Linked DNA regions of Homo sapiens: all the other regions are linked to region 1. Evidence: fine-mapped expression QTL. A gene starts in region 1. Each other region holds a variant in brackets. All regions are shown on one strand. Distances are from middle to middle.

Region 1 (6,099 bases):
GGGGTGAAGGTGGCAGAGGGGCTTGGGGCAGAGCCCAGCCATCCTTGACCAGTGCCCCGCCCGGCCCTCTCCGCAGTCAGCCATCCTTTCTGCCCAGTCTGCTGCCAACGTGAGGAAGGAGAGCCTATGCCAGCCAGCCCTGGAGGTCCTGGAGACATCCAGCCAGGAGTCCTCGCTGGAGAGCGAGACAGACGAGGACGACGACTACATGGACATTTGAGGGGCCACTGCAGCCCCACCGCCACGCCCCAGGGGACCAGCCAGGCCTGGAATGCCCCCTGGGCAGGACCCTGGGCAGGACCAGAGGCCCACATGGATGCCACTCCCCACACAGCCCCCAGGCCTGCCCAGCCCACCTCCTCATGGCATCCTCCCTGTACCCAGGTCAGGCTGTCCACACCACATGGGAGCCCAGAGGAGGAGGGGCCCGCCTTAGCCATGTGAAGGTGGATTGGTCGCCATCTGCACGCCAGGCGGCATCCTTTTCTATGAAGTGTTGACTTTGTAAATCTGCCCACACCCAGCTGGCCATATCCACCCCTCGACGCCGGGATGAGCCGGCTCTGCCTGTGTCACAGTGGAGGGGTCCTTTAGGGCCAGGCTCACCCCTCACCCTTTTTTTGGTTGCTTTTCTAATAAAGATGGAACAGTTGTCTTTGCCTCTTTGCTCACCTCTAGGGGGCAATCTGGCAGAGTCTCTGGCGGAGAGTTGCTGTCCCCAGGGATTCTGGGCCTTTACTGCCATAGTCCATAGGGCAGGGCCTAGCCCCCCTCCTTCTCCAGCATCTCAGGGACCAGCCAGGCAACCAAAGCAGCGGCTGGGGGTGCCCAGTGGGGTAAGGAGAGAGCCGACTCGGGGCTGGGCCAGGCAGACGCCTCTAGTGCAGCTGGAGCCAGGCTTCAAAGGGGAGTTAGGTGCATCCCCAGAACGCACCTGGGTGCCAGTGGGTGGGAGGCTGTACGGTGGGAGGGCAGGCAGGGCTGGGGCAGCTGAGAGGCTGGGAGGAGGGGGCTGTCAGGGAGGGAAAGGGGGGATGGGGCCGGCAGGGAGGGTACTTAACTCCCATCACAGTCGCCCTAATGGGGCCAGTCACAGAATAGCTGGGCTCAGTGCAAGACATAAATATGAAGCTCCTTGATCAAAAAGGATTAAGGATTTTTTTTTTTTTTTTTTTTTTTTTTTGATATGGAGTCTCACTCTGTCTCCCAGGCTGGAATGCAGTGGCACGATCTGCAGTGGCACGATCTCAGCTCACTGCAACCCCCGCCTTCTGGATTCAAGCGATTCTCTTGCCTCAGCCTCCCGAGTAGCTGAGATCACAGGCACACGCCAACACGCCCAGCTAATTTTTGTATTTTTAGTATAGACGGAGTTTCACCATGTTGGCCAGGCTGGTTTCAAACTCCTGACCTCAAGTGATCCACCCACCTTGGCCTCCCAAAGTGCTGGGATTACAGGCCTGAGCCACCACCATGTCTGACCAAAAATGATTAAGGATTTTAAGGCAGGCCCCACAGAGCATTAAGCCCCTAGAGCTGGCACCCTTCACAACTCTCTTCCCCTCCCAGCACCGCAGGGGCCCTCCTGGCCCTGGGACCTCCCATGGAGCAGGCTCTCTGTCCAGGATGGAGATGGGGACCCTCCTCACTGCCCTGTGCCCCTCATGGGCTGGACATGCCCACCACCCAGGAGGAAAGGCGTAAAGGGCTGGGCACCGCCCTTTTGGAACCAGAGGCTTGGTGGCCCCAGATGGGTCTGGCTGAACCCGCCTTTCGGGGGGCTGAGATAAGCCAGCCCCAGTTACTCAGCTGACGCCCCCTCCCTGCAGGGCCTGGGGTATGGAGCTTCCCAGACTGCACACCTAGCCCCTACCGCACTTCCATTGTCTCCAGACACGCGCAGCAACGGTGCCCAGGCCAAAAACAGGAAGCAGCAGCTCTCCCTCCTCCAGTTCCCGGGAACTGTCTCAGCCGATCCCCCAGCACCCCTCCCTGGAGCCTCACCTATAGGAGGACGGACACCTCGGACCCTCCCCTGCACCCAGTGCTGTAGGGAGCAACTTCAGCCCTGGGCCTGGGATGAATGCCCTCGCCAGCCTGGGGCCAGGAGACAGGCTCTCCCTGGCTCAGCACCTGAGCGTCCACTTACAGGACACTCACCTGCAGAGGTGCCCTGAGCGCCATTGTGGGTTAAGGGACTTTCTCCCCTCTGGAGACAGTCCCTGAGAAGCTGAAGGTCTTGGGGGCCTCTCACCAAATGTCTTTGGGAGGTGGGAAAACATCAAATGCGGGTGTGGCTTCCCTGGAACAGCTCTGTGTGGGGACTCAGGAGCCAAGTCCCCCAGCACACGCCTCTAACACTTTCAGTAGGGGCCACCTCTCTGGAGCCACGGGTGGCTGCCAACACCCTGTGGTTCCCAGCAGGCACCACCCAGGCAAGAGAGAGAACAGGCCGGGGAACAATGGGCTGGCCTGGCCGCAAGCGCTGGGGCAGATCACAGACCGGATGGCCTAAGCTCATGCCCTGGGGCCACCTCTGACTCCCTGCAAGTGTGGCAAGGGTCCCTTTTGGACACCTTGAGAAGCTGCAGCTGGGAGAGGACCACCCGCCTGTCTGGATGTCCAGCCCAGGTGTCAGGGTCCAAATGACCAGTCCCAGGCCGCAGCCCTTACCACCCGCCCTGGCTGCAGGGGCTCCCAGAAGCCACCAAGGGCCTGGCTCGGCCTTGCCTATCCGCATCTGAGCTTCAGTTTCCTCATCTGCTCAAGAAGGGAGGTGAATACTGATTAAATTATGCAAACTCTTAGCGGCAGGATTAGGTGTGGCTGGGACAGCCAAGGCTCCCCAGGGTGGTGGCATCTCTGGAGCCCGGGGATGGGCCCTGTCTCCCTTCCGGGCCCCCCGCTGGGCTTGGGTACCTTCTCTCCCCTTCCTCCTTCCTCCCTCCAGAGGGGACCCCTGCAGAGCTGCCTCCGCCCCAGGGCTCAGCCTGTGTCTGACCCAAACAGCTCCTGCCTCCCCCTGAGGATGAGTTGGGTGCACCTCCTTCCTGCAGGAAGATGAGGGCTAGAGATGGAGGTCTATGTCAGGGCCACAGAGTCTGGAATCCTCCCTGGAGCTAAAACAGCCCTGCCTTATTCACCCTGCGCATCCCATCCTCTGCTTCAGCCCCGCCGGGCTCGCCCTGCATGCAAGGCGGGGCTGGGACCCAGGGTCTGAGCTTCGCCCTCTGGACATCCGGCTCATCGCCTGCCAAAGGTCCTGTGGCTGGAGGCTCCGGCCTCCTCACCCTCCCACAGGGTCCCAGGGCCGATCCAGGCCTGCGGGCCAGGAATGTGCTAACGGGGCAACTTGGGCCTTGCTGGTCCACGCAGGCACCTGTGGACTTTGAGAGGGGACTGGGTGGGGAGGGGCGGGGAGGGGCGGGGCGGGGCGGTGCCGCAGAGTGCAGGGCGGGCGGGGCCAGGCCAGCAGGGAGTGAGCTTGTCTGGCCGCCTCGCCTCGGAGCCACTGCACTGCTGGCTGCAGACACAGGCTGCACCATGAAGCCAGCCCTCCTGCCCTGGGCCCTGCTGCTGCTGGCGACAGCCCTCGGCCCGGGCCCCGGACCCACAGCAGGTATGCCTCCCTGCCCTTCTGTGTCCCCGTCTGTCTGTCCATCTGTCTGCAGCCAGGCCTGGGCTGACATCCCTCTGGGCTCAGCCTCTGTCCATCTGTCAGGCCATCTGTGGCTGTGCTAGGGGTGATGGGAAGAAATTCTGAGGGTCCATGTGGAGGGGCAGCCCATGGGGATGGGAGGTCTGAGCCGGGCCCACCCTAAACCTGCTGGTAGCTAGGAGGGAGGCGGGGGAGACCAGCAGAGGCCTCCGCCTGTGTCCCCAGCCCTGACAGGGCGGGATCACGGAGGGGGAGCCAGGATTGTGGGTCCTCATCAGGGTGGGGCTGAATCCAGGAAAGTCTAGGGAAAGCCCCGAACTCCAGAACCAGGACACTGGTCCCAGGCTGCCCCCCGTCCCCCACCCCATTTCCCATCGACCCTCTTGCCACTTATCTCACTTGCAAGCATCTCTCGGCCTCCTCCCCCGACCCCTGTGCGCCACCAAATCCTTGGCCAGTACATATTTATTGTTGCTTTTAAGTGCCAGGCACTGCACTTGGTGAAGTGGGGCCAGCGGGGTGGCTCAGGCCCAGGCCTGGCCCTCGACTGGCCTCTTTTGATGGGGGATGGGGAAGGGCCAGGGAAGTGCAATTCCAGCCTGGGTGCATGCACCTGCCCCAGTCCCTCCCTGCAACCCTTCCTTCATGCCAGCCCCTGGAAATATGGCCTTGCCCACCGGTCTTATGGCCCATAGGAGAAGTTTTGGGCCCGGCGCCCACAGCCCCTTGTGGTGTGCACCCCCACTTCCCTTTCCCCACTGCTGGGACCCCTGCTTGAAATGTCCCTCCTCTCCCCAGAAAGGAGGGGAGCGGCCCTGGCCTTCTGCCCTGAGCACGGAGCTCTCTTTGGGGTCTCAATTGCAGCCCCTGGGAGAGCGAGAAGTGTCACGTTCAGACCCTGCACCATTCCCTACCAGGCCTCAAATGAGACTCTTGGCAGCCATATCCCCCACCCCAGTCCAGGCAAGCAAGAGGGGTTCTTCTGCAGGCTTCAGGGCCCCCAGAAGGCGTGCTGACCACAGACACCCTGGGGAGCCAAGAGAGGTCGAGGGCTCCAGCTACCGTGGCCCACTGAGGACCCCTGCCTGTGGGATAGAGGACTTGGTGGCTGAAGGGCAGTCATGCCCAGGGGCTTCTCCTGACCCTGCAGGGCTGAGCGGATGCAGCTTTTTGCCTCTTCTCGCTGCATTCTAGCCCGTCAGTCAGGGCAACAGCCAGATGGTCTGTGCTAAGATTCATCCCATCCCCACGGGCCCTGTGGCTTTCTACTGTGTCCACCTGGTGGCCTGTGCAGTTCCTGGCCAGCGTTCTCCTGGGGATGCTGCTGTCTAATGGGCTGTGGGAGAAACAGAGACAGGCCCTGCACATGGGGCAGCCAGTCCAGTACCCGCCGGGCCAGGCCCTCAGCATCCTCTCCTCCAGATGCCCAAGAGAGCTGCTCCATGCGCTGTGGCGCCCTGGACGGGCCATGTTCCTGCCACCCGACGTGCTCTGGCCTTGGCACCTGCTGCTTGGATTTCCGGGACTTCTGCCTGGAGATATTGCCCTACTCAGGATCCATGATGGGCGGCAAGGACTTTGTGGTGCGGCACTTCAAGATGTCCAGCCCCACAGACGCCAGTGTGATCTGCAGGTTGGGAGGCCCAGGAGGCCGGGCACTGGGGCCCCACGCCCCCATCCCTGTGCATGCTGAGGGCTCAGACCCACTGACTGGCTGAGTGGAGCCCCTCGGACCCAGGACAGGCAGGAGGGCACAGGGACAGCTGGCTGGTTGGGTTCCCCAGGGAGGTTGGGGGCCCAGACCATCGAGAGGCTCAGCCTGCAATGACCCAGCCCCTCCCACCACCACCACGCCCACAGGTTTAAGGACAGCATCCAGACCCTCGGCCATGTGGACTCCTCCGGGCAAGTGCACTGTGTGTCACCTCTGCTCTATGAGAGCGGCCGCATCCCCTTCACTGTGTCACTGGACAACGGCCACTCCTTCCCTCGTGCGGGCACCTGGCTGGCTGGTGAGCCCTCCTCCCTGCCCACAGCCTGCCCCCACGGGGACTTTCCCCAGCGCTAATCTATGCACACCGAGACTTGGCCTGTCCGTGCCCTGCCTCTCTGGCTGAACCAGTCCCTTGGGAGGCCTGCCCGCCTGCGAGAGTTCCTTCAGCTCCTTTCCACTCCCTGGCATCCAGACCGCGGTCCCAGCCCAGAGTGAGTGGGAGCTGCAGGGGTCCCTAGAGAGGTGGGCCAGTGCCTATCCACTGAGCTCCGCCATGCCAGGGCAGGGGAGAAGCCAGGTCGAGGCTAGAGGCGTGGGCAGTGGAGGGAGGGCAGGCCCCTGCCTCTGCGGCCTCAGCGTCCTTTTCTGCTGTGCGGGCCAGAGAGACCATCACCCAGCTGCTGCCATGCATTGGCCCTGGAGGCTCCCACAGCCCTTGAAGCCTCAG
Region 2 (6,099 bases), 69 kb after region 1:
CTTTCCTCTCAGGCCGAAATAAGGATTGAGGCCGGGTGCAGTGGCTCACCCCTGTAATCCTAGCACTTTGGGAGACTGAGATGGGGGGACTGCTTGAAGTCAGGAGTTTAAGTCCAGCCTGGTCAACATAGTGAGACCCCATCTCTATTTGTTTAAATAATTTTTTAAATTAAATAAATAAAATAAGGATTGAGGAGTGACTCGTACATCACTCAACTGGGAGCCCCAGAGACACAGCCCTCCAGGGCTCAGAACCGGTGGTACTCTACTCTGCAGGCACAAAACCCTGTTTGTGGGCCCTTTGGTATCACCAGGTTTTCGGGGCTCCTGAAGGATAGCCCCGACCTGGCCTCACCTGGGCCCTGGCCAGAGTGCCCCTGGTGATATCCAGAGTGCCCCTGGTGCTGGGCTGTGACCACCACCCCTCACCAGCCTATCTCCACCAGCCTTTCCCAGAATCCTGCCCCAGGTGTTGGAACTGTGCCTGGAGGAGGGAGCAGGCCCCGAGGGAGGCCTGGAGGGGCTGCTGATGGTGAAGGCTGCTGTGTCTAGTTGTTCCCTTCCAAACCCACTCCCTCTGGGCTGCATCCCCGGCTGGTCCAAGCCCTGATCCCTGGGATCTGGGGACCTCTTCCAGTTTGCTGTTCCCTGAGAACCAGGCCTCCCTCTGGAGAGGATCACAAGCTTGGGTTTCACTCTGGGCTTAAACTTGGAAACCCCCCAGGGGCTTGGCTCTGACTGAGATGTTTTCCTCCAGCCTCTTGCCCAATCCCCACTCCTCAGACCTCAGCTTCACCTCCCATGTCCTCGGCAGGGTGAGCTGGACGCCTACGGGTCTGAGAAGGCACCCGGGTTCCCGGCATCAGCTGGCCACTCTCTGCCTAAGAAAGGGCCGGGGTCGCTGCACCCTCTGGTGGCTGGTCCTAGGTGGTGTTGCTGCCCAGCCCAGGGAAGGGAGGGCCTGGCCCCAAGTCTGAGGGATCAGGGTGGGAAGGGGCAGGGCTTGGCATGGACCTTCCCCTGGCCCCCAGCCACGTGCCTGGCTTTCCCCATGCTGAAGATGCTGAGGCTAGTTCCAGCGACCGCAGCGTGAAGATCTCCGAATCCCGCCTCTCCAGTGCCTCATTTATTGTGCTGCTCTGCTGCTCACAGGGGAAGCCGGTCCCCCAGAGTCCCCTTCCTGGTCCTAGTGAGTATCTTGTCCCTAGATTGCTTGTCAGCCTTGTCCGCCTGGAGCACTCAGTAGCCAGCAGGCTCCCCGCCTTTCCTGGAGTCCGAGGCAGCTGCCCAGCCACCAGCCGTGTGGACGATGGCTTGCACCACAGCGATGAAAGTGGATGCGATCTGGGTGTGATGGTGCCGGGTCTCCAGGGCTGCAGTCACTGCCTGGGGGTGGGAGGAGAGGGGAAGCCTGAGCAAGGCTCCAGATGCCACCTGAACCACATCTGTGTGGTCACAGGCCTCAGCCCAGGTGGTGCCATTTCGGGCCAGGTCATCAGGAAGAGCAGGTTGGGGCCTGCTGGGTCTCACTGGAGCAGGGGGTTTGGCCTTCATGTCACAGGGGCTCCAGATGGCCCAGGCACTAGAGAGAGGACACCAACCATTGTCCACTCTGTGATGATCCAGGCCTCCAGCCCAGGATGCCCTGGGGCCCCACACCGTGACTCAGTTTCTCCAACCCCCGGCCCACCTGGTCAATGTTTCTCTCCACTGTCGTGACGTTGGGCAGAAGCTGGTTGTGCAGCCGGGGCTCCTCCACGGCCCGCTTCACGTCATAGCCGAACCAGAGGTTGTAGATGATGGCCTGGGGCATGGGAGTGTGATCAGCGTGGCTTGGGGGCTGTGCAGGGTGGGCACGGCCAGGGAGAAAAGCTGTGACACATATCAGTGCAGTGGCTGTGGTGATCTGTGTGCCCCCAGCAGCTCCCACAACCATCCGGACCTGGCCGTCCTGGCCCACCATGATCGTCGGGCACATGGACGAGAGCGGCTGCTTCCCTATGGCCGATGGGAGAAGACAGGGATGCCCGTCAGCTGCCTGCCCAGGACACCCGCCCCTCTCCACCCCAGTCCCCCACCCCCGGACCTCCACCCCATACCTGGCTGGATGAAATTGGCAGGTGAGGGGGCACCCCAAACTCGTTGGTGATGTTGGGAGAGCTGAAGTCGTCCATTTCATCATTGAACAGGATCCCGCTGACCGGGGAGCGGACCTTGGAGCCAAAGCTACCGCCCAGCCAGGTCAGACAGTGCCCGACCTTGCCTGGCCCAGCCTGGTCCCTATCCACCCACTGAGGCTCAAACATACTCACTGAGAGGCCCAGGATAAGCTACCAAGGTTGGGCCTCAGTTTCCCACCAGGAAAAGAGGTGACGGAGCCACCTTACTGGATAAGTGGGCAGTCCCTGGGCCACCCGCCCCTGGCCCTTTCCCACCCAGGCGGCCCAGCAGCCCCTACTAGAGGTTGATGGTGCTGGTGGTGGACACAGCACTGCCGTCTTCTGCGACGACAGACAGGTGAGCAGTGCCCCCATCAACTGGCGTGTAGAACTCGGGCTTGTAGTAGGAGATCGGGTGAGTGGTGTCGTCAGAGATCTGGGCCCGGAGCTGGGCAGCGAAGAACTCAGAGGTCATGTTGCGGACCACCTGCCGAGACCCCAGAGCTGGCCTGAGGAGGTGGGGAGGGAGGGTGGGGAGGGGGCACAGGTCTCAAAAGGCCCCTGACTGTGGCTCTGATCACAACCCTCTGGCACCCACAACCTTCCGTGGCTCCCCAGGACCCAAGGGCAGGCCCAGGATCTTGCAAGACCAGTCTGACTCCCTGTCTCTGTCGCGTTCCAGCAACTCTGAATGTCTGTCTGCCTGGTCCTCAGCCTCCAGACCCTTGCTGCATTCAATCACTCATTCCTTCATGCAAAAAATATTTCTAGAGTTTGCACTGCATGCCTGGCACTGGGGAATCAACAGGGAACAGACACTTAGGTCCTGCCCTCATGCCAAGAAAAACAAACACACACAGGGAAAGTGCTGAAACCACAAGCCAGGTAAGGGGAATCAAGAGGCATGAGGTATGGGCAGAGTGGTCAGGGAGGGCTTCTCAGAGGAGGCAACGTGTGAAAAGAGCCTGGAATGT[G/T]GCCTAAATGGTCAGTGCAAAGGCCCTGAGGCAGGTGGTATAGGCTGGTGAGCGATAGGCAAAGAGTGAATGGAGTGGGGTGGGGAGAAGAGGATGAAGATGCAGGCTGGGGCCCATCCCACAAGACCTCCTAGGTCCCATAACAACTGGCTTTTGCTCTGTGCCATGCAGGCTTAGGGCAGAGGAATGAGCAGGCTGGGGAGTGTTTTCACAGGGTCCCTCTGGCAGCTATGACGGGGATAAGGATAAAGCCCAAAGGGGAGGCTGTGGGTATCAACCAGGCAAGAGATGATGGCCTGGGTGGGAGAAAGAGAAGAATCAAGGATGGTGCCGACTAGCGAGGTAAACCCTGCAGAAAGGGCAGGTTTGGGGATGGTCAGGAGCTTGATTCTGGATACTTCATCAGACCTGAAGAGCATGGGTGCACGTATAAAAAAATAAATAAATAAGCATGGGTTCACGGGCAAGGGCGGGCTGAGAGATGAACATGGAGGTATTGACATTGAGTGGCTGCTGGATGCCATGAGCCTGGCCAAGGTCCCCAAGGCAGTGGCGAGGAGGAGATGAGGAGGTCAAGGAGGAGACAGAGGATGGACCCGAAGGCCGAAGAAAATGCCTCAAGGGAGTTTCAACACCGGGCGCGGTGGCTCACGCCTGTAATCCCAGCACTTTGGGAGGGGGATCACGACGTCAGGAGATGGAGATCATCCTGGCTAACACGGTGAAACCCCGTCTCTACTAAAAATACAAAACATTAGCCGGGTGTGGTGGCGGGCGCCTGCAGTCCCAACTACTCCAGAGGCTGAGGCAGGAGAATGGCGTGAACCCGGTAGGCGGAGCTTGCGGTGAGCTGAGATCAGGCCACTGGAATCCAGCCTGGGCGATAGAGGGAGACTCCATCTCAAAAAAAAAAAAAAAAAAAGAGAGAGAGTCTGGCTCTGTTGCCCAGGCTGGAGTGCAGTGGCGCGATCTCGGCGCATCACAATCCCTTCCCCGCCCGCCCCCGGGTTCAAGTGATTCTCCTGTCTCAGCCGCCGGAGCAGCTGGGACTACAGGCGCGTGCCACCATGTCTGACTAAATTTGTATTTTTACTAGAGACGGGGTTTCACTATGTTGGCCAGGCTGGTCTCCAACTCCTGATCTCGTGATCCGTCTGCCCCGACCTCCCAAAGTGCTAGGATTATAGGCATAAGCCACCACGCCCGGCCTCTTTTTTTTCTTTTTCTTTTTTTTATCTGGAGACTGAGTTTTGCACTTGTTGCCCAGGCTGGAGTGCAATGGTGCGATCTCAGCTCACTGCAATCTCCACCTCAGCAGGAGAGCAGGAATCTTCAGTGATCCACGGGCAGATCTGCCACCATTGTGGGCACCTGTTCCTCCCGCAACCTTTGTGCCCGCCTCTCTCCTTCCAGTACCTATTGCATGACCCCCCACGTCCGCCTCCCGCCATTGCCAGCAAGTGCCTCGCGCGGGTACCTGGCTGCGCTTATTAATCCGTTAAGCTCGCTCTGTCACGGGCGCCGTGATGTGCTCACGCGCCCACTCCCTCAGGTTTAAAAGGCGCGTTGCCCGGCAACAGAAGAAACTGCTGGCTTAGCCTTTGGCGGAGTTGGCGGCTGGACGAGGACGCTCAGAGCCCAGCTCTCGAGAGTTCAAGCAACCGACGGTTCCCCACTGCTCCCAGGAGCGGTTACCTGGGCACTCTGTGCCCCTCCTTCCTGTTCGGGCCCAGGCCGAGGACCTGCCAGTAGGGCTCAGTTGCCTGGAGCCCGTTCAGCCCATCCCCCAGTTCACTTTGCCTGTGGGATCTCCCCGTTGCTCCTGCCCGTGGACTGAGTGGCAGGCCATCCTACAAGCACCCGGACACTTGACATCAGTGGTGTCAAGACAACTCTAAGAAGGTTTTCCGTGATCCTGCAAGCCCTGCGTTCCTTCCTGGGATCCTGCCTTCAATTTGATTGCACAGGTACCACAGCAAGCCAGTGCTGTGTGCTCCGAGTTCCAGGGCGTCCTCCAGCTCAGCCACTGCACTGAGAACATGGACTCTCTGTGGGGCCCAGGAGCCGGGAGTCACCCCTTTGGGGTCCACAACACCCGGCTGTCCCCAGACTTGTGTCCAGGGAAGATAGTGTTGAGGGCCCTCAAGGAGAGCGGGGCAGGGATGCCTGAGCAGGACAAGGACCCTAGAGTCCAAGAGAATCCTGGTGATCAGAGAAGGGTCCCCGAGGTCACCGGGGATGCACCGTCTGCATTTCGGCCCCTGCGGGACAATGGAGGCCTCTCTCCCTTTGTGCCCGGGCCCGGGCCTCTGCAGACAGACCTCCATGCCCAGAGGTCAGAAATCAGATATAACCCGACATCCCAGACCTCCTGGACGAGCTCCTGCACCAACCGAAATGCCATCTCCAGCTCCTACAGCTCCACGGGAGGCTTGCCGGGGCTAAAGCGGAGGAGGGGGCCAGCCTCATCCCACTGCCAGCTGACCCTCAGTTCCTCAAAGACAGTGAGTGAGGACAGGCCTCAGGCTGTCTCTTCAGGTCACACCCAGTGTGAAAAGGCAGCAGATATAGCACCAGGGCAGACACTCACCCTCAGGAATGACTCCTCCACATCCGAGGCCTCTAGGCCCAGTACACACAAGTTTCCCCTGCTGCCACGCAGGCGAGGGGAGCCTTTGATGCTGCCACCTCCCTTAGAGCTGGGGTACCGGGTCACTGTTGAAGACCTGGACCGGGAGAAGGAGGCGGCCTTCCAGCGCATCAACAGTGCACTGCAGGTTGAGGACAAGGCCATCTCGGACTGCAGACCCTCACGGCCTTCCCACACTTTGTCCTCACTTGCAACAGGGGCTTCTGGTCTGCCTGCCGTTTCTAAAGCACCCAGTATGGATGCACAGCAGGAGACACACAAGTCCCAAGACTGCCTGGGCCTACTGGACCCCTTAGCATCTGCTGCAGGGGTCCCC
Region 3 (6,099 bases), 26 kb after region 1:
GTGTCTCAAAACACCACCACCACCAACAACAACAATGCCCAAATCTGACTGGGTGCATGGCACACGGCTGTGATCCCGGCACTTTGGGAGGCAGAGGTGGGCATATCTGAGTTCAGGGGTTCGAGACCAGCCTGGCCAATATGGTGAAACCCCATCTCTACTGAAAATACAAAAATTAGCCAGGAGTGGTGGCATGTTCCTGTAATCCCAGCTACTCGGGAGGCTAAGGTAGGAGAATCGCTTGAACCCAGGAGGCAGAGGATGCAGTGAGCCAAGATAGCACCACTGCTCTCCAGCCTGGGTGAAGGAGTGAGACTGTCTCAAAAAAAAAAAAAAAAAAAAGGTTCAATACCTCCAGTCTATGTTCACCTTATCTTGAGTTCAATATCTCCACTCGATGTTCACCTAATCTTGTGTAAAGTGCTGATTTACTGATTTACTGAGCACAAGTATCAGAGGCGTGTGAACCAGAGCAACTCCATCTTGAATAGGGGCTGGGTAAAATGAGGATGAGACCTACTGGGCTGCATTCCCAAGAGGTCAAGTCATTCTTAGTCACAGGATGAGATAGGAGGTCGGCACAAGATACACGTCATAAAGACCTTGCTGATAAAACAGGTTGCAGTAAAGAAGCCAGCTAAAACCCACCAAAACCAAGATGGCAACGAGAGTGACCTCAGGTCTTCCTCAGTACTACACTCTCACTGGCGCCATGACAGTTTACAAATGCTGTGGCAATGTCAGGAAGTTAACCTATGTGGTCTAAAAAGGGGAGGCATAAATAATCTATCCCTTGTTTCACATATAATAAAAAATAACCATAAAAATGGGCAACCAGCTGCCCTCCACACTGCTCTGTCTATGGAGTAGCCATTCTTTTATTCCTTTACTGTCTTAATCAACTTACTATGGACTTGCCCTGAATTCTTTCTTGCTGGAGATCCAAGAACCTTCTTTGGGGTCTGGATTGGGACCTCTTTCTGGTAATGCAAGAGGAATACGTAATTTACTCTTCCCCTACCTGCTCCTTTGTGCTTTCTTTCTCTCTCTCTCTCTCTCTCTCTCTCTCTCTCTATATATATATATATATATATATGGCTGTTTGTAAGAAAGAGCGCCCAACTGAAATCAGCCAGAAGCCCCTCTCAGGTTTATTCTCTAGAATAAACCTGTCTTTAACTGTTGAGCCACTTTTCATGTTTCCTTCCTCTTTCTTTAACTGTTATAGTCATTATCTGTAGATACTCGAGAAACTGTTAGAAATAGGTGAATTGAGCTATATATATAGAGAGAGAGAGAGAAAGAAGGAGAGAGAGAGAGGGAGAGAGAGAGAGAGACACTGGGTCTTGCTCTGTCACCCAGGGTGGAGTACAGTGGGGCAATCATGGCTCACAGTAGCCTGGACCTCCTGGGCTCAATCGATCCTTGTGCTTCAGCCTGCTGAGTAGCAGGGACTGCAGGCATGCACCACCATATCTGGCCAATTTTTGTATTTTTTTGTAGAGATGGGGTTTCACGATGTTCCTCAGGCTGGTCTTGAACTCCTGGGCTCAAGCAATCTTCTCACCTCACTCTTCTTTTTTAAATTTTGAAGCCCTCAAAGTCACCTTTGGGGAAAGGCACAGACCATAGGCTGCTTCTGTGATTCCATTTTTTTTCCCCTCCTGGGCATTGTCCTTAACCTTGGCAAAATAAACTCTTAAGTTGATTGAGACCTGTTTCAGATGCTTTTTGATTCACACTACTACAAGCGATTTTACTTCAAAAAAGGTTTTTTTGTTTATGGCTGGTACGTAGAAATAACATTGATTTTTGCATATATTCCTTGATTCCAATTGATGCGGCTTTGATGACTGGAGGAACACCAGGGTTTTGGTTTTGTACTGATAGGATTAATGACACCGACACATGTGGAATGGTTTTTTGTTTGTTTTTAGCTTTTTATTTTTTTGAGACGGAGTTTCACTCTTGTTGCCCAGGCTGGAGTGCGATGGCACCATCTCAGCTCACTGCAACCTCCGCCTCCCAGTTTCAAGCAGTTCTCTTGGCTCAGCCTCCTGAGTAGCTGGGATTACAGACATGTGCTGCCACACCTGGCTAATATGTGTATTTTTAGTACAGACGGGGTTTCACTATGTTGGTCAGGCTGGTGGAGTGGTTTTAAGGAGCAAAATGTTTAATAGGCAAGAAAGAAGGAAGAAGAAAACAGCTTCCCCTTACAGAGACAGAGCAGGGGGATTTGAATAAAGAGAAACCCCATGTGAGTCAGAAAAGTGGTTGCTTTTATTGGGATGCTGGAGGAGTTGGTGTTTGATCTGCATAAGGCCCAGGGGATTGGTTTGACCAGGTGTGTTATTTACCCAGCCAGTGAAAAACCTGGCCCTTTTACTTTAGTCCTTTAATATGCAAATGCAGATTGCAATGTTTTGAACACATGATGTTATCTGGAGGTGGCCATGACACTTGGGATACCTGGTGACAAGGAGATGATGGTGGGAATTGCCATATTGGGTGAACCCAGTTTTTAAAGGCCGACATTTGCATATTAAAGCTTGCTGGCCCCGCCCTTCGAGCTGCCTTTTTTGTTAGAAAAGAGATGGTTTGGGGGTTGTTTTTTATTACAGGAAAATTTTTACCGAGAACCTTTACCTTTATTATTTGTCTAAAAATTATTTTTAATAACTTCTGTATTACAATGACCTTGCTCAATTCACCTATTTCTTTATTTTATTTTATTTTTATTTATTTATTTATTTTTTTATTTTTTTTGAGACGGAGTCTGGCTGTGTCTCCCAGGCTGGAGTGCAGTGGCGCGATCTCGGCTCACTGCAAGCTCCGCCTCCTGGGTTAACACCATTCTCCTGCCTCAGCCTCCTGAGTAGCTGGGACTACAGGCGCCTGCCACCGCACCCGGCTAATTTTTTGTATTTTTAGTAGAGACGG[A/G]GTTTCACCGTGTTAGCCAGGATCGTCTCGATCTCCTGACCTTGTGATCCACCCGTCTCGGCCTCCCAAAGTGCTGGGATTACAGGCCTGAGCCACCGCGCCCGGCCCAATTCACCTATTTCTAACCGTTTCTTGAGTATCTACAGATAATGACTGTAAGAGTTAAAGAAAGAGGAAGGAAACATGAAAAGTGGCTCAACAGTCAAAGACAGGTTTATTCTCCAGAGGGGCTTCTGGCTGATTTCAGTCAGGGGCACTCTCTCTTACAAACAGTCATTTGTAGTTTTCTTTCTGTGAACAGTGAATCACATCCCTGTGCATATTTCTACTGGATACTTGGTCTTTAATACTAATAGTATTTATTGGTTTTTTAGGGTTAGAGGGCTTATCACAAGCTTGGAATGTTTCTGTGTGGGGGAGAAGTTTATGGGGGGGTTGGAATGTCTCTGGTCCCAGGGGAGGTTATCTTGGGGCTAATGTCTCTCTGGCCGGAGGGGAGGTTATCTCGGGGCTGGCATGTCTCTGGTCAGGGAGGGCTTTAGAATGTTTCTGGTTGGAGATGTTATTTGTGGTTTATGGTCATGCTGACCTTAGCCATTAGGCTGATGCCCTTTGGATTTAGGCAGTTTTTGATCAAGGTGAACTTTAAAATGATGGTGCTTGTCCAAGATGGCAATGCTCCTGCTCTGTCAATGACAGTCTTATGTCCTCCTTTCCAACCTTTATGGCTTTTGTTTTTCTCACCTTATTACATTGGCTAAAACTTCCCCTGTAATACTGGAAGGAAATAATGAAATAATTCTTAGCTTGGTTTCAATCTCAAAAGGGAGGCTTTTTATGTTGTACCTTTAAGCATGACATTTACTGTAGGTTTTTGTAGCCACGATTTATCAGATTAAGGAAGTTTCCTTTCATTCCTAGTTGCTGAGAGTTTTTATTGTAACTGAATGTTGGCAAATTTTATCAAATGCTTTTCTGCATCTACTGAGATGGTGAGTGACTTTTCTTCTTTATTCTGTGAGTGTGGTGAATTGTGTTGCTTGATTTTCTTTTTTCTTTTCTTTTTGTTTTGTGACAGGGTCAGGCCCTGTCATCCAGGCTCGGGGGCAGTGGTGTGATCATGGCTCACTATAGCTTTCCACCTCCCAGGCTCAAGTGATCCCCCAACCTCAGCCTCCCGAGTAGCTGGGACTACAGGCGCATGCCACCATGCCCAGCTAATTTTTGCATTTTCTGATAGAGACAGGGTTTTACCATGTTGGCTCGGCTGGTCTCGAACTTCTGGGCTCAAGCGATCCATAGGCTTCAGCCTCCTAAAGTGCTGGAATTACAGGTGTGAGGCTTCATTTTCTAATGTTCAGCCAATCTTGCATTCCTGGAACAAACCTAAATTGGTGGTGACGCATATTTTTTCCTTTCAAGCCCTGGTTTCTTCATGTTTTAAGGGCTATGCATCTCTGTTCATGAATCAAATAGCCCTAGACTTTTCCTTCTTGACATTTTTTTGGCCAGGTTTTGCTTTCAAGGTTATGCTAGCTTCTTCAAAGACGTTGAGCAACCTTTCCTCTTTTCTGTTCTCTGGAAGTTTGTGTAAGACTGGTATTTTTTCTTTCATCAGGGTTTCAAAGAATTCACTGAGGAAGTTCTGGGCTCGGAGTCACTTCCTCTGGCCCTGTGGGATCTCACTGTTGTTTGAATTGGCAATGTTTATTTATGAGTAGGCTTGAGAACTTTTTGTCTGTTGAAACAGCCATTTGTAGTTTTCTTTCTGCAAACAATGAGTCACATCCCTGTTCATATTTCTACTGGATACTTGGTCTCTAATATTAAATATTTAAGTATTTAAATATTTCAAAAACCAGCCCCACATCATGTATTGAAACTGTTTTTCTCCAGGTTTTTCACTGGTCTTTTGTTGTTGTTGTTGTTGTTGTTGATAATAGAGATGAGATCTTACTGTGTTGCTCAGGCTGGTCTCAAACTCCTGGGCTCAAGTGATCCACCTACCTGAGGCACCCAAAGTGCTGAGATCACAGGTGGGAACCATTGTGTTCAGCTTTATGTAAAAAAAAAAAAATTCTGAAAAGACCAGTGAAGGCTGGGCACAGTGGCTCACACCTGAGATCCCAGCACTTTGAAAGGCTTAGGTGGGTGGATTGCTTCAATCCAGGAGTTTGAGACCAGCCTGAGCAACATGGCAAAACCCCATCTCTATTTTTAAAATTATTTTTAAATCAAAAATTTTTGGCTGGGGGCGGTGGCTCACACCTGTAATCCCAACACTTTGTGGGGCTGAGGCAGGTGGATCACCTGAGGTCAGGAGTTCGAGACCAGCCTGACCAAGATGGTGAAACCCTGCCTCTACTAAAAATACAAAAATTAGCCGGATGTGGTGGTGGACGCCTGTAATCCCAACTACTTGGGAGGCTGAGGCAGGAGAATCGCTTGAACCCGGGAGGCGGAGATTCCAGTGAGCTGAGATTGTGCCACTGCACTCCAGCCTGAGCAACAGAGTGAGACTCCATCTCAAAAAAACTTTTAATATTTAAATAAAAATAAAAATTAAACTAAATTTAAATTTTTAATTTTTACATGTTCATATTTATTAGCTTTTTTCTTTTATGGCTTTTTGGTTTTATGACATGCCTAAAAAGGCCTGCCCCACTCTAAGAACATAAACAAAATTTGCCCATGTGTTCTTGTGATATTCATATGGTTTCATTTTGGTTTGTTTGTTTGTTTTGAGACAGAATCTTGCTCTGGAGTGCAGTGGCACAACCTCGACTCACTGCAACCTCCACCTCCCAGGTTCAAGTGATTCTCCCACCTCAGCCTCCCAAGCAGCTGGGATTACAGGCGCCCACCACCATGCCCAGCTAATTTTTACATTTGGAACGTTAGTACTTTAGTCTCCCCATCTATAAAACTGGTATAATCACAGCTCCCCTTCTGGAGAGAATTACATAAATTAACGCATGTAAAGGAATAGAATAGCACCCAGCCCAACTCATGCCGTTTCTGTTGTATTAAGATATATATTCGGGTTAAGGGAAGTTCTGTGAAAGGACCATATGTGCAAAGAGACCCCCACATGCTGAAGGAGCCAAGAAACCAAAGAAGGAGGCCGACAAATCAAGTTTGTTGGTGTGGCACAAT
Region 4 (6,099 bases), 86 kb before region 1:
GATGGTGACGAGGAGGAGTGGCTCATCCACTACATGCTGGGCAAGGTGGCTGAGAAGCAGCAGCAGCCACCCACCGTTTACTTGCTGCACTACAGGCAGGCTGGCCACTACCTGCACGAGGAGGCTGCCCGCTACCCCAAGAAGATCCACTACCACAACCCACCTGAGCTGGCCATGGAGGCCCTGGAGGTGACACCATGCTGGCCCAGGGCGGGGAAGCAGGGCAGGGGCAGGCTGGTTTCTTTATCTCCCTGGGCATGTGGCTCAAGGTTCCAGTGACCGTCCTTCAACCTGCCGCAAACTTATCTGTGTTGAGCAGCTTCATGTGCAATTGAATTAAAACATCATTTCCTCTCTTTTCCCAAGGGGTGTTTATCATCCTTTCTGGGAGAGTGACCATTTTGTTCTTATCTCTCAGAAGAAAATTGTCTTTCCTCACTAACACAGGTTCTAAGAACCTGACCTTGGTGATGACAGTCAGTGCTACATAGCATCTCCCAGGCCCAGGACATTCACACCCTGTAGCCTGGCAGGAGGGAGGGCAGGCACCATTGCCTCCAGGGTGCAAATGAGACATCCAAAGCCCAGCCTGTGCCCAGGCTACCCAGGTTGGCAGGGGCTGAGCTAGGGTGAGCAGCCTGCTCTCTTGACCCCCAGTTTGGAGTCTTCTGATTGTTGTTCAAGAAAAGAGCAGTTCTTTACTCCCTGGATTTTCTCTCATGGTTTCCAGAGTGTTTCTGATGAATGCTGTCACTGTTGCTTATAGCAGTCTTGTGAGGCAGGCTGGGCAGCCACGATTGTCAATTTTGTAGGCAGGAAAACCAAGGACATTGGTAGAGATCCAGATGTCCACCATTTGGTTCAGCCCAGGACTTGAAGCTTCTGAAGGCCCTGTGCACGTTGGCTTTGCCCTTTCTGAGGCTATGTGCCCAGTCTCTACCAGTCTCACGTGCCCAGCAAGCCTCTTGGAGTGTGGACAGAATCTGCTGCTTGCTTTTTTCTGCCTTTGTGATTTTTTTTCCTGATTATAAAAGTGTGTGTGTGTGTGTGTGTGTGTGTGTGTGTGTGTGTTTTAAAGAGATTCAAACAACTCAGAAGTGTACAGTGTGAATGTGAAGGCCCCTAGTGATTCCAGTATGCCCCTCCATAATCCCTAAGAGTTTGCTATGTCCCTGTATGTCCGAATTTTTTCCTATTAACATATAAACATATAGTAACATTTTCTTATGATTTTGCAGCTTGTCTTTTCGCTGGACAAAATTTAATGGAAGGTGTGGTGAGCTTCCCTGCCTGCCCTAGTGCCCTGTAGTTTAGCAGGGCGTTTGTTTATCTGCACGGACCCTTGATAGGTTTGGTTTCCTCTCCACTTCTTGCTATGACAAGGCACAGGCAGTGCATGTCTTTGTACTTGAAGCAGGGAGCACATCATGAGTATTTCCAAGGACTAGAGTCCAAAGGTGGAATTGCCAGGTTGTTTAGCATTCTGATCAACAATGGCTACTTGCCCCAAGGTCGTACTGACTGATGAGAGTGTTTGCTTTCCCTCAGCCATATTGATGAGGTTCTCTTTTTAATATTTGCTAATTTTGTGAGCAAACAAAAATGTCTCATTTTGGCTAGGTATGGTGGCTCACGCCTGTAATCCCAGCACTTTGGGAGGCCGAGGTGGGTGGATCACCTGAGGTCAGGAGTTCGAGATCAGCCTGACCAATATGGTGAAACCTTATCTCTACTAAAAATTAGCCAGGTGTGGTGGTGGAGGCCAGTAGTCCCAACTACTTGGGAGGCTGAGATGGGAGGATCACTTGAGCCTGGGAGGTGGAGGTTGCAGTGAACTGAGATTGTGCCACTGCACTCCAGCCTGGGTGACAGAGTGAGACCCTGTCTCAAAAAAGAAAGGAAAAAAAAAACTCATTTAAAAAAAAATGTTTGGGCCAGGCATGGTGGCTCACACCTATAATCCCACTGCTTTGGGAGGATTGCTTGAGTCCAGGAGTTTGAGATATAGAGCTGGGGATCTCAGAGACTAGCGGGCAACATGATGAGACCCCCCCATCTCTACAAAAAATAAAAGATTAACAAGGCCTGGTGGCACGCACCTGTAGTCTCAGAAACTTGGGAGGCCGAGGTGGGAGGATTGCTTGAGCCCAGGAGGTCGAGGCTGTAGTGAGCTGTGATCACACCACTGCACTCACAGCCTGGGAGACAGAGTGAGACCTTGTCTAAAAAAAAAAAAATTAAATTTGCCTGTTTTGGGGCCATATTCACTGGGCTCATGGAGAAGTGTGGAAACACAGCTTCCTGTTGAACGCTATCTCAGGAGCAGCAGCTTGGCTGCGCTCATTCGCGGCGTTGGATCTCCGTCCTTCCCTGTCATAGTGCTCATACTGTCCACCTGGGGGCAGGTGCCTTGGAAGAACTCCACTTTGGGGGTGAGAAGGGTAAGGCCCAGAGGAGTGATGTGATGACTTGCCTTAAGTCACCTGCAGGAACAGAGAGGAGCTGGGCCAGATGCCCACTGAGCCCAGCATTCTCATATGGCACCTCTGGGAAGCCACTGAACCTACGTGTGGCCCTCAGGAAGATGATGTCAACTCTGTTTTTCCTCCATGTTTTTTTCTTCAAGATTTGGCCTCTACTACTGCCTGATAGAGCAGATGAGCAGGCAGGATGGTAGCCCCAGGGGTACCAGCAGCTTCCATATGAGGAACCAAGGCCTTAGATGTGTGGCCTACCCTCTCCCAGCACACAGTGCTGGCTCCAAGGAGAGCAAGCACACATAGTTAATTTGGGGGGCAACCCATTCCATGCAACCATTGTAGCTATGTAACTTTGAGTCAGCTGGTAAATATGTATATCTTGTGTTAAAAATGACATTTCTGGCCGGGCGCGGTGGCTCACGCCTGTAATTCCAGCACTTTGGGAGGCCGAGGCGGGTGGATCATGAGGTCAGGAGATCGAGACCATCCTGGCTAACAAGGTGAAACCCCGTCTCTACTAAAAATACAAAAAATTAGCCGGGCGCGGTGGCGGGCGCCTGTAGTCCCAGCTACTCGGGAGGCTGAGGCAGGAGAATGGCGTGAACCCGGGAAGCGGAGCTTGCAGTGAGCCGAGATTGCGCCACTGCAGTCCGCAGTCCGGCCTGGGCGACAGAGCGAGACTCCGTCTCAAAAAAAAAAAAAAAAAA[A/G]AAAGAAACAAAAATGACATTTCTCTGAAGATTTTTAACTCTGTCCTGACAAAAATTCTCCTCTGCTATTGTGCCTTCATTCAAGAATCTTTACTCGCCACTTGGATGAACTTTACCAGTTGAATGCTTTGCCCTCCCCCAAGTTTGGCCACCTGATTGTGCATGGGTGCCTCGAGTGGTTTCCTACATCTAAAAATGGAGTTGCTGGGCCAATTTCTCTGGGCTCCATAGGTGGGCTAGAGGTGGAGGGGCTCTGGATGTGAGACCCCTCTGTCTGGGATGCCTCCTTGAGAGTGCTGCCAGCAGGTTCTCACCTGGGTGAGGGGGGCCACTTAGCCAGGGCCTGCAATGGCAGTTCTCAGCCCTCATACCACCCACTGTGCCCTCCAAGTGGGAGCCTGCCTCACACCCACTCCTGCATGAGAAGATCAGGGCAGACCTGGTTTTAACCTGGCCCTGGGCATTCCCGGCTGTGGGGCCTTGGGCAGCTCTTCACCCATTTTAAATTGAGGAATGTGGTAAGGACTTGAGGAAATGGAGGAAAGCACAGGGCCCAATGGATGCAATGAGCTGCCTGCCCACCCACCCCCCCACCACACCCACGGGGAAGACGTTTTCGAGGCCTGTGGGTGCCTGGCTTTGCCTGGGGGCTGGGCTATAAACAGAAATCCAACCTAGTCCTTGTTTCAGGGAGTCCAGAGTTCAGTGGGGAGACAGATGTAGAAACTCACTTTCTATGGGTGCCCACTGAAGGGCACAAAGAGAACAGCAGCACTGTGGCGGGAGGCAGTGCCCAGTGAACGGAGCTGAAGGGTTATCATAATGAGTGGTTATTACTCTCATCTCACTACCATGTGCCTGAGTTACTGCGTGAACGTTTAAGCTGGAATGCTGACAGTATACATTTTAATTTTCACAGCTTGTTTTAAATTAGTTGTAGGATGGTTGGTTTAAAAGCTAACAAAAACAAGCAGTGTGTGGCAGCCTGTTGCCCTGGTCATGGGCCCATTTCCAGTGTGGCTGACTGGCCTGTGGAACAAATCTTAGCAACTGGGAAGGCTGCTCACACTAGAGGTGTCGTTCTCCTAGGTGTACTTTCGGCTCCATGCTTCCATCCTGAAGCTCCTGGGGAAGCCCGATTCTGGGGTTGGTGCAGAGGTCCTGGTCAACTTTATGAAGGAGGCTGCAGAAGGACCCTTTGCCAGGGGCGAGGAGAAGAACACACCCAAAGCTTCAGAAAAGTGAGTAGCACCCTTCAGGCGACCCCTAGCAGCTTACCCCATCTGCATCCCAGATGGCTCGTTTACTGCAATGTGTTGTTCAGAGGGTTGCTACACAGTAAACAGTAAACTAGAACTCATGGAGTCCCTAGGACCCATCTGGAAACTCCCATTTGCTGGGCCAAGGTATTTCTGTTGAGTCTGAGAAGGAGAGGGTGAGTGTGAGTCCCCTTACCCTGTGGTCATGTGTGGTGCTACCCCACCCTAAGGGGAAGTCCTGGGGAGAAGCTGATGCCCTCCTGCCCTCTCCACTGGGGCACAGCTCTGTTCTGTGCAGAACACTGTAGAAAGTCAGTTTTTGCTTTGCAGACTCTCACCCCTGGGTCCTTTGCCAAGGCCTTGTCTGCTGCCCATTCTCCTGAGAAGCAGTGGGAAGTGTGGGAAGTGTGGGCTTCTCATGTGGTGCCAGAGAGCTCGGAGAGACTGGGGCTCAGGTGTGGTCCTCTCAGTGGGCCTGGACTGACCCCAGTCTCCCTGTGGTTGTAAGTCATCTCCACAGCCCAGACTTCTTTCACTCCAGGCCCAGGTCCTGGTGCCGCCCCATCCTCAGGGGCAAGTCCTAGGGAGAAAGATGGGTTTGGGGTGACATGGGGAATGTTGCAGCTGCCCATTAACCTGATGGACTCATGCTGATTCTTGTGCTTCTGAGACATGCTCAGGGTCACCACCTGCCAGCTTGCCCACATGGGAGCCAGGGGAGGGCTCAGCTCACCCCATCTCTGAGTCCGCTGCCTAGCTGGGCACTGTGCGAAATTCAGCTGACCCCTGCCTGACTGGGCACTGTGCGGGGTTCAGCTGAGTGCCAGAGAGGCCTGCACCCAGGCCCTGTGCTTGAGGGCTGTCTGCTTCTGACCACAGATAGCCTGTGTGATGTTCACCACAGGTGAGCCAGCTCCACAGTCGGTGTGCCCCTCAGGTTATGGGGAGGTTCACGTCCATGCATGGCAGGCCACTCAGGTGGGCAGCCGCTGTGCTCAGAATTTATAGCTACCCATTTTTTTAGTCACAAAGGGCCCCCAACATACAATGATACTTTCTTTCATTGGTTATAATTCTGTTAAATTTTTTTTAATTATACAAATAATACATGAATACTTTCTTGTTATAGAACATTCAGGTAGTATATAAACATGTAGACTAAAATGTGACAGATCTCCTTCCAAGAGTTAGCTACTATTCACAGTTTAATTTCCTAAATCATTTTCTGTATATTTATAACACTTAAATGCACACATACAATTGTAAGGTTTCATTTATTTTATAAAAATGAACTACAGAAGGTATTGTTTTAGAGTTTGCTTTTTCCCCTGACAGTGGGTCTGGGCAACAGTCCATGGAGATAGTACCCCAGTCACTTCATTCTTTCTAGTGGCTACTTACTATACCATAGTATGGATGTACCATGTTTTATGTAACCACTCCAATGGACATTTAGAGTGTTTCTAATGTTTCTGCTCAACTATGTTGCAGCACATATCCTTGTACATGTGTGAGCATGCAGTAAATGCAGATGTGTTTCTGTCTGCCCATTTGTCAGGTCTTAAGTTTGTCAGGCTGTCACACAGAAGGCATAGACTTTGCATGGAGAGATGCAAGGGTGCTTCTGAAGAAAGACTCTTTGGCTCCTCTATA
Region 5 (5,584 bases), 160 kb before region 1:
TGAGACAGGGTCTCACTGTGTATCCCAGGCTGGAATGCAGTGGTGTGATCATGGCTCACTGCAGCCTTGAACTCCTGGGTTCAAGTGATCCTCCCACTTCAGTCTGCTCAGTAGCTGGGACTACAGGTGCATATCACCATGCCTGGCTAATTTTTATTTTATTTATTTATTTATTTATTTATTTTAGAGATGGGGGTCTCACTATCTTGCCCAGGGTGGTCTCGGACTCCTGGAGTCAAAGGATCCTCCAACCCCAGCCTCCCAAAGTGCTGGGATTACAGGCATGAGCCACCAAGCCTGGCCATCATTTTAAAATATTTTTGTAGAGACAGGGTCTCACTATGTTGCCCAGGCTAGTCTCGAACTCTTGGGCTCAAGCCATCTTCCTGCCTTGGCCTGCCAAAGTGTTGGGATTACAGGTGTGAGCCACAGTGCCCGATCAATTTGTCTTTTTTAAAAAATTATTTATTTATTATTTTTTCAAGAGATGGGGTCTTGCTGTGTTGCCCAGGCTGGACTTGAACTTCTGGGCCTTAGCCTCCTGAGTAGGTGAAATTACAGGTGCACACTGCCATACTTGGTGCGTGATCTGTCTTGTTTTGAGATTGGTTTGAAGCCTCTAATTTTTAGGGTGTTACTGTTTATGTGTCCTTGCATCTCCTTTGGGTTATTCTTTGTTTTTTGTTTTTGTTTTTGTTTTTGTTTTGGAGACAGAGCCTCACTCTGTTGCCCCAGGCTGGAGTGCAGTGGCTCTGCCTCCCAGGTTCAAGCGATTCTCCTGCCTCAGCTTCCCAAGTAGCTGGGATTATAGGCACATGCCACCATGCCCAGCTATTTTTTGTATTTTTAGTAGAGATGGGGTTTCACCATGTTGGCCAGGCTGGTCTCGAATCCCCGACCTCAGGTGATCTACCCACCTTGGCCTCCCAAAGTGCTGGGATTACAGGTGTGAGCCACCGTGCCCGGCCAGCATATTCTTGACTGTCATATCATCAGTGTGAATTGTGCCTTTGTTACATTTAATACTTTTGGGCTTGAATTCTACTTTGATGTCTATCCCTGTGCTATTTTTTTTAACAAATTGTATTTCCTTTTATTAGAATTTTTTTATACTTATTATGTTTAATTAAATTATTTGACCTTTTTTGGAGTTATAGTTCTGTGACTTTTGACACATGTGTAGACTTGTTACCACCACCATCATTACCACTATCAGGATAAGGAACAGTCCATTGCTTATGGCACCCCTTTACAGACACCTTCCTTTACCCCGGGCTGCCCCTGATGTGTTCTCCATCACTATAGTTTTGTCATTTCAAGAATGTCATGTAAATAGAAATATAATAGTGTACAACCTTTTGAGACTGGCTTTTCTCACTTAGCATAATGCCTTTGAAATTCACCTCAGTTGTTTCATATATCAATTGTTTGTTCCTTCACATTAGTAGTAGTATTCCACTGTATGATATATCACAGTTTATCTACTCACCTAATGAAGGATATTTGAGTTGTTTCCAGTTTTTGGTGATTTGAGTGGAGCTGTAAACATTTTTATACAAGTTTTGTGTGAACATTTCTCTAGGATAAATAACTAGGAGTGAGATTGATGTATCATATGCTAGTGTATGTTGAGTTTTATAAGAAACTGTTTTCTAGCATGGTTGAACCATTTTCCATTCCTATCAGCAGTGTATGATTCTTCCAGTTGCTCTGTGTTGGCATTATCAGTTTTTAAAAAAATACAGCTATTTTAATAGGTGCATATGGTAGCTCATCATGGTTTTAATTCATATTTCTCTAATGATGAATGAGGTTGAGCATCTTTTAATTTATTTACTTGTCTTTGGTGAAGTATCTGTTCAAGTCTTTTGCCCATTTTTTAATTGGTCTTTTTTTATTGTGCCAAAATTTGTATAACATAAAATTTACCATTGTAACCATTTTAAGTGAACAATTCAGTG[G/A]CATAAAGAACATTCACAACATTGTATAACTGTGCCACTATCTATTTCCAAAAAATTTTTATCATACCAAACAGAAACTTTGTGTTTATTAGGCAGTAACTCTTGATTCCTCCCTTCTTGCAGGCTGTGGTACTTTCAGTCTCTAGGTACCTTGTATATCAAACAATATTTGTACTTTTGTATATGGCCTATTTTACTTAACATAGTGTTTTCAAGGTTCATTCATGTTATAGAGCATGTATCACAATTTCATTCCTTTTTGTGGCTGAATACTATTTCATTGTATTTGTATACCACATTTTGTTTATCCATCTATTGGTGGACACTTGGTTTGTTTCTACCTTTTGGCTATTGTGAATAATGCTGCAGTGAACATGGGTGAACAAGTATCTGTTCAAGTCCTGTTCTTTCAGGTAAAAACCTGAGTGGAATTGCTGGGTCATGTAGCAATTCCATGTCTGACTTTTTGAGGAACTACTAAACTGTTTTCCACAGGGGCTGGACCATTTTACATTCCTACCAGCAGTACATGAGTGTTTGAGTTTTTCTACATCCTTGCCAACACTTGTTATTTTCCATTTCCTTTCTGTTTTATTTTTTTGATAATAGCCATTCTAGTGGATGGAAATAGTATCTCACTGTAGTTTTGATTTACATTTCCTGGATGACTAATTTACAATTCCCTGATAAGCATCTTATGCACTTACAGGTGTTTTTATATCTTCTTTAGAGAAAATGTCTTTTGAAAGTCATTTACCTGTTTTTTTTTTTTTTGAGATGGAGACTTGCTCTGTCACCCAGGCTGGAGTGCAGTGGTGCGATTTTGGCTCACTGCAAACTCTGCCTCCCGGGCCCAAGCAGTTCTCATGCCTCAGCCTTCTGAGTAGCTGGATTACAGGTGCCTGCCACCATGCCCAGCTAATTTTTTTATTTTTAGTAGAGATGGGGTTTCACCATGTTGGCCAGGCTGGTCTCGAACTTCTGGCCTCAAGTGATCTGCCTGCCTCAGCCTCCCAAAGTGCTAGGATTACAGACGTGAACTACCATGCCCAGTCATTTACCCATTTTTAAATTGACTTGTTTGTCTTTTTGTTGTTGAATTGTAGGAGTTCTTTATATATTCTGGATATTAATCTCTTATTAGGTATATGATTTACAAATATTTTCTTCCATTGTGTGTGTTGTCTTTTCACTTTTTGATAGTGTCCTTTGCATAAAAGTTTTTTTTTTATTATACTTTAAGTTTTAGGGTACATGTGCACATTGTGCAGGTTAGTTACATATGTATACATGTGCTACCTTTGCATAAAAGTTTTACATTTTGATGAAGTCTAATTTATCTATTTTTCCTTTTGTTTCCTGTGCTTTTGGTGTCATGCTTAAGAGGCTATTGCCAGATCCAAGGACATGAAGATTTTTCCATATGTTTTTTCCTAAGAATTGCTTCTCTCTTGCTGCTTTCAAGATCTTCTCTTTGGTTTTGGTCTTAATAAGTTGACTATAATGTGTCTCAATGTGGATGTCTTTGAATGTGTACTTCTTAGAGTTCATTGAACTTCTTGGATATGTATGTTAATGTCTTTAATTGGATTTGAGGAGTTTTCAGCCATTATTTCTTCGAATAATTTTTCTACCCCTTTCTCTCTTCTCCCTCAGATACTCATATGATACATACGTTAGTTTTCTAGATGGTATCCCCCATATGTCCGTATGTCTCTATTCATTTTTCTTTATTCTTTTTATTTTTCTCACACTGGATAATTTCAATTGCCTTTCCTTCACATTCGCTGACCATTTATTTCGCCTGCTCACATTTGTTTTTGAATTTTCAGTTGTATTTTTAGTCTTCAGAATTTTTGTTTGATTTCTTTTTAGAATTTCTGTCTCTTTAGTGATAATCTCATCTTGTTCTTACATTATTTTCCTTATTTCCTTTATTATTTTGTTCATCTATCCTGATTTCCTTTAGTTGATTCAGTGTATTTAGGACAGTTAATATTTTTGACTAGTAATTTCAGTGTCTGGTCAGGAATATTTTCTATCAAATTCAGTTTCTCAGGGATGGTTTCTATCAAATTCCTTTTTCCTGTGAATGTGCCACATTTTCTTTTTTCTTTGTATTCTTTGTAATTTTTTTGTTTAGAATTGTACATTCTAAGTATTATAGTATGGATAATGTTGGAAGTCAGATTTCTGACTTTTTCTTGTTGAGGGCTGCAGCCATCAATTTTTGACTTTTTCAAACTATTTTTGCAAAATGTATTCCTTGTTGTTTGTGGGCACTGTAGATTCTGTTCCATTATTTCTTTGGTCAGCCAGTGACCTGACAACGATTTCCTTAAATGTCTGATTCAAAAGGGGGGAAAAGGTGTTCCATCTCTTTAAATCTTCTGATAGAAGCCACCTGTGAAAACATCGATAGCCTGAGAAGGCCAAAACCAAGGCAAGTATATACCAGTTCTACAGGGATCTGCCAGACCAACCAAAGTGCACAAACCCACATTTTTGTAGGTTTGGAACCAGCCAGCCACTTTAGGAACATGAGCTGCTATCCCTATAGCCGTGAGTGGTGGGGCCGAGGAATGGGGGATGGTAGCTGAGTCAAGTTATTCTTTTACCAAATATCAGCAGCCTCTGCTCATCAAACGCTCTGCTGGTTGTTTTAAGTGTTCAGTCAGGTTGCAAAGTTTTGTTTTGTTTTGTTTTGCTTTGTTTGAGACAGGCTCTCACTCTGTCACCCGGGCTGAAGTGCAGTGGTGCAATCTCAGCTTACTGTAGCCTCGACCTCCCAGGCTGAAGTTATCCTCCCACTCAGCCTCCCAAGTATCTGGGACTACAGGTATGTGCCACCACGCCCAGCTAATTTATTTTTTTGAGACAGGCTTTCACTCTGTTGCCCAGGCTGGAGTGCGGTGGCACAATCTCAGCTTACTGCAGCCTCAACCTCCTGGACTCAAGTGAGCCTCCCAACCTCAGCCCCCTAGTAGCTGGAACAACAGGCATGTGCCTCCACGCCCAGCTAATTTTTTTGTATTTTTTTGTAGAGACAGGTTTTCACTATGTTGCCCAGGCTGGTCTCGAACTCCTGAGCTCAAGTGATCCACCCATCTCTGTCTCCCAAAGTGCTAGGATTATAGACTTGATCCACTGGGCCTGGACTAATTTTTTTTATGTTTTGTAGAAACGAGGTCTCACTCTGTTGCCCAGGCTGGCCTCAAACTCCTGGGCTCAAGCAATCATCCTGTGTTGGCCTCCCAAAGTACTGGGATTATAGGTGTGAACCACCATGCCTGGCCAGGTTCCAGAGTTTGAAACAGTAGATTTTGATGATTATTTTCCTAGTTTACTGGTTGTTTTGGTGGAAGGACTGACCTTTTCATTCTTGTAGCAGTGTCTTTTGTAAAGCAAGAGTTTTTCAATTTGGAAGTTCAGTTTATTGAGTTTTTTGCTTATGGGTTGTGTTTTTTTGTGTTGTCTGAAGGCTTGTCTAACCCTAGGTTTCAAGGATTTTCTCCTGTGTTTTCTTTGTTTTGTATTTTATGTTTAGAAATGATCCATTTTGAGTTATTTTTTGTATTACATGTGAATTTTTGGTCAAGGTTCTTTTTCTTTTTTCTTTTTGA

Direction of the effects. Alleles are on the strand shown, and positions count from the first base shown. SD is a standard deviation of normalised expression in the study named. Not every link is listed here.
For the expression in sun-exposed skin of the gene that starts at base 3,511 in region 1, G is the high allele of the variant in region 3 and A is the other (small effect, 0.35 SD a copy in GTEx).

What was found. PIP is the estimated chance that this variant, and not a neighbour inherited with it, causes the effect.
Region 2: its variant is fine-mapped to the expression of SUSD2 in tibial nerve (GTEx, PIP above 0.99).
Region 3: its variant is fine-mapped to the expression of SUSD2 in sun-exposed skin (GTEx, PIP 0.91).
Region 4: its variant is fine-mapped to the expression of SUSD2 in whole blood (TOPMed, PIP above 0.99). The same link has a PIP of 0.9 or more in blood mononuclear cells.
Region 5: its variant is fine-mapped to the expression of SUSD2 in whole blood (INTERVAL, PIP 0.95). The same link has a PIP of 0.9 or more in cerebellar hemisphere.

What each region holds. Positions count from the first base shown.
Region 1 is chr22:24,177,977-24,184,075 of GRCh38, forward strand. It overlaps SUSD2 (sushi domain containing 2), which reads left to right and starts at 3,511. Exons shown (of 15, transcript NM_019601.4): 1 at 3,511-3,619; 2 at 5,081-5,291; 3 at 5,519-5,670. The coding sequence starts at 3,544. CABIN1 (calcineurin binding protein 1) reads left to right here. Exons shown (of 37, transcript NM_012295.4): 37 at 77-652. The coding sequence ends at 220. RefSeq lists enhancers at 5,481-5,560, 5,631-5,740.
Region 2 is chr22:24,246,833-24,252,931 of GRCh38, forward strand. It overlaps the pseudogene GGTLC4P and the pseudogene POM121L9P. Among named protein-coding and RNA genes, the nearest start is that of GGT5, 4.8 kb to the left of the region's middle. RefSeq lists silencers at 749-1,043, 784-853 and enhancers at 953-1,941, 4,749-5,249. The variant G/T (reference allele first, on the strand shown) is at 3,134.
Region 3 is chr22:24,203,565-24,209,663 of GRCh38, forward strand. No RefSeq gene overlaps it. Among named protein-coding and RNA genes, the nearest start is that of SUSD2, 25 kb to the left of the region's middle. RefSeq lists an enhancer at 1,726-2,694. The variant A/G (reference allele first, on the strand shown) is at 2,944.
Region 4 is chr22:24,091,655-24,097,753 of GRCh38, forward strand. It overlaps CABIN1 (calcineurin binding protein 1), which reads left to right. Exons shown (of 37, transcript NM_012295.4): 24 at 1-189; 25 at 4,277-4,428. Among named protein-coding and RNA genes, the nearest start is that of CABIN1, 83 kb to the left of the region's middle. RefSeq lists enhancers at 1-122, 123-622. The variant A/G (reference allele first, on the strand shown) is at 3,188.
Region 5 is chr22:24,021,017-24,026,600 of GRCh38, forward strand. The region is part of intron 1 of CABIN1 (calcineurin binding protein 1); the gene reads left to right. Among named protein-coding and RNA genes, the nearest start is that of CABIN1, 13 kb to the left of the region's middle. The variant G/A (reference allele first, on the strand shown) is at 1,962.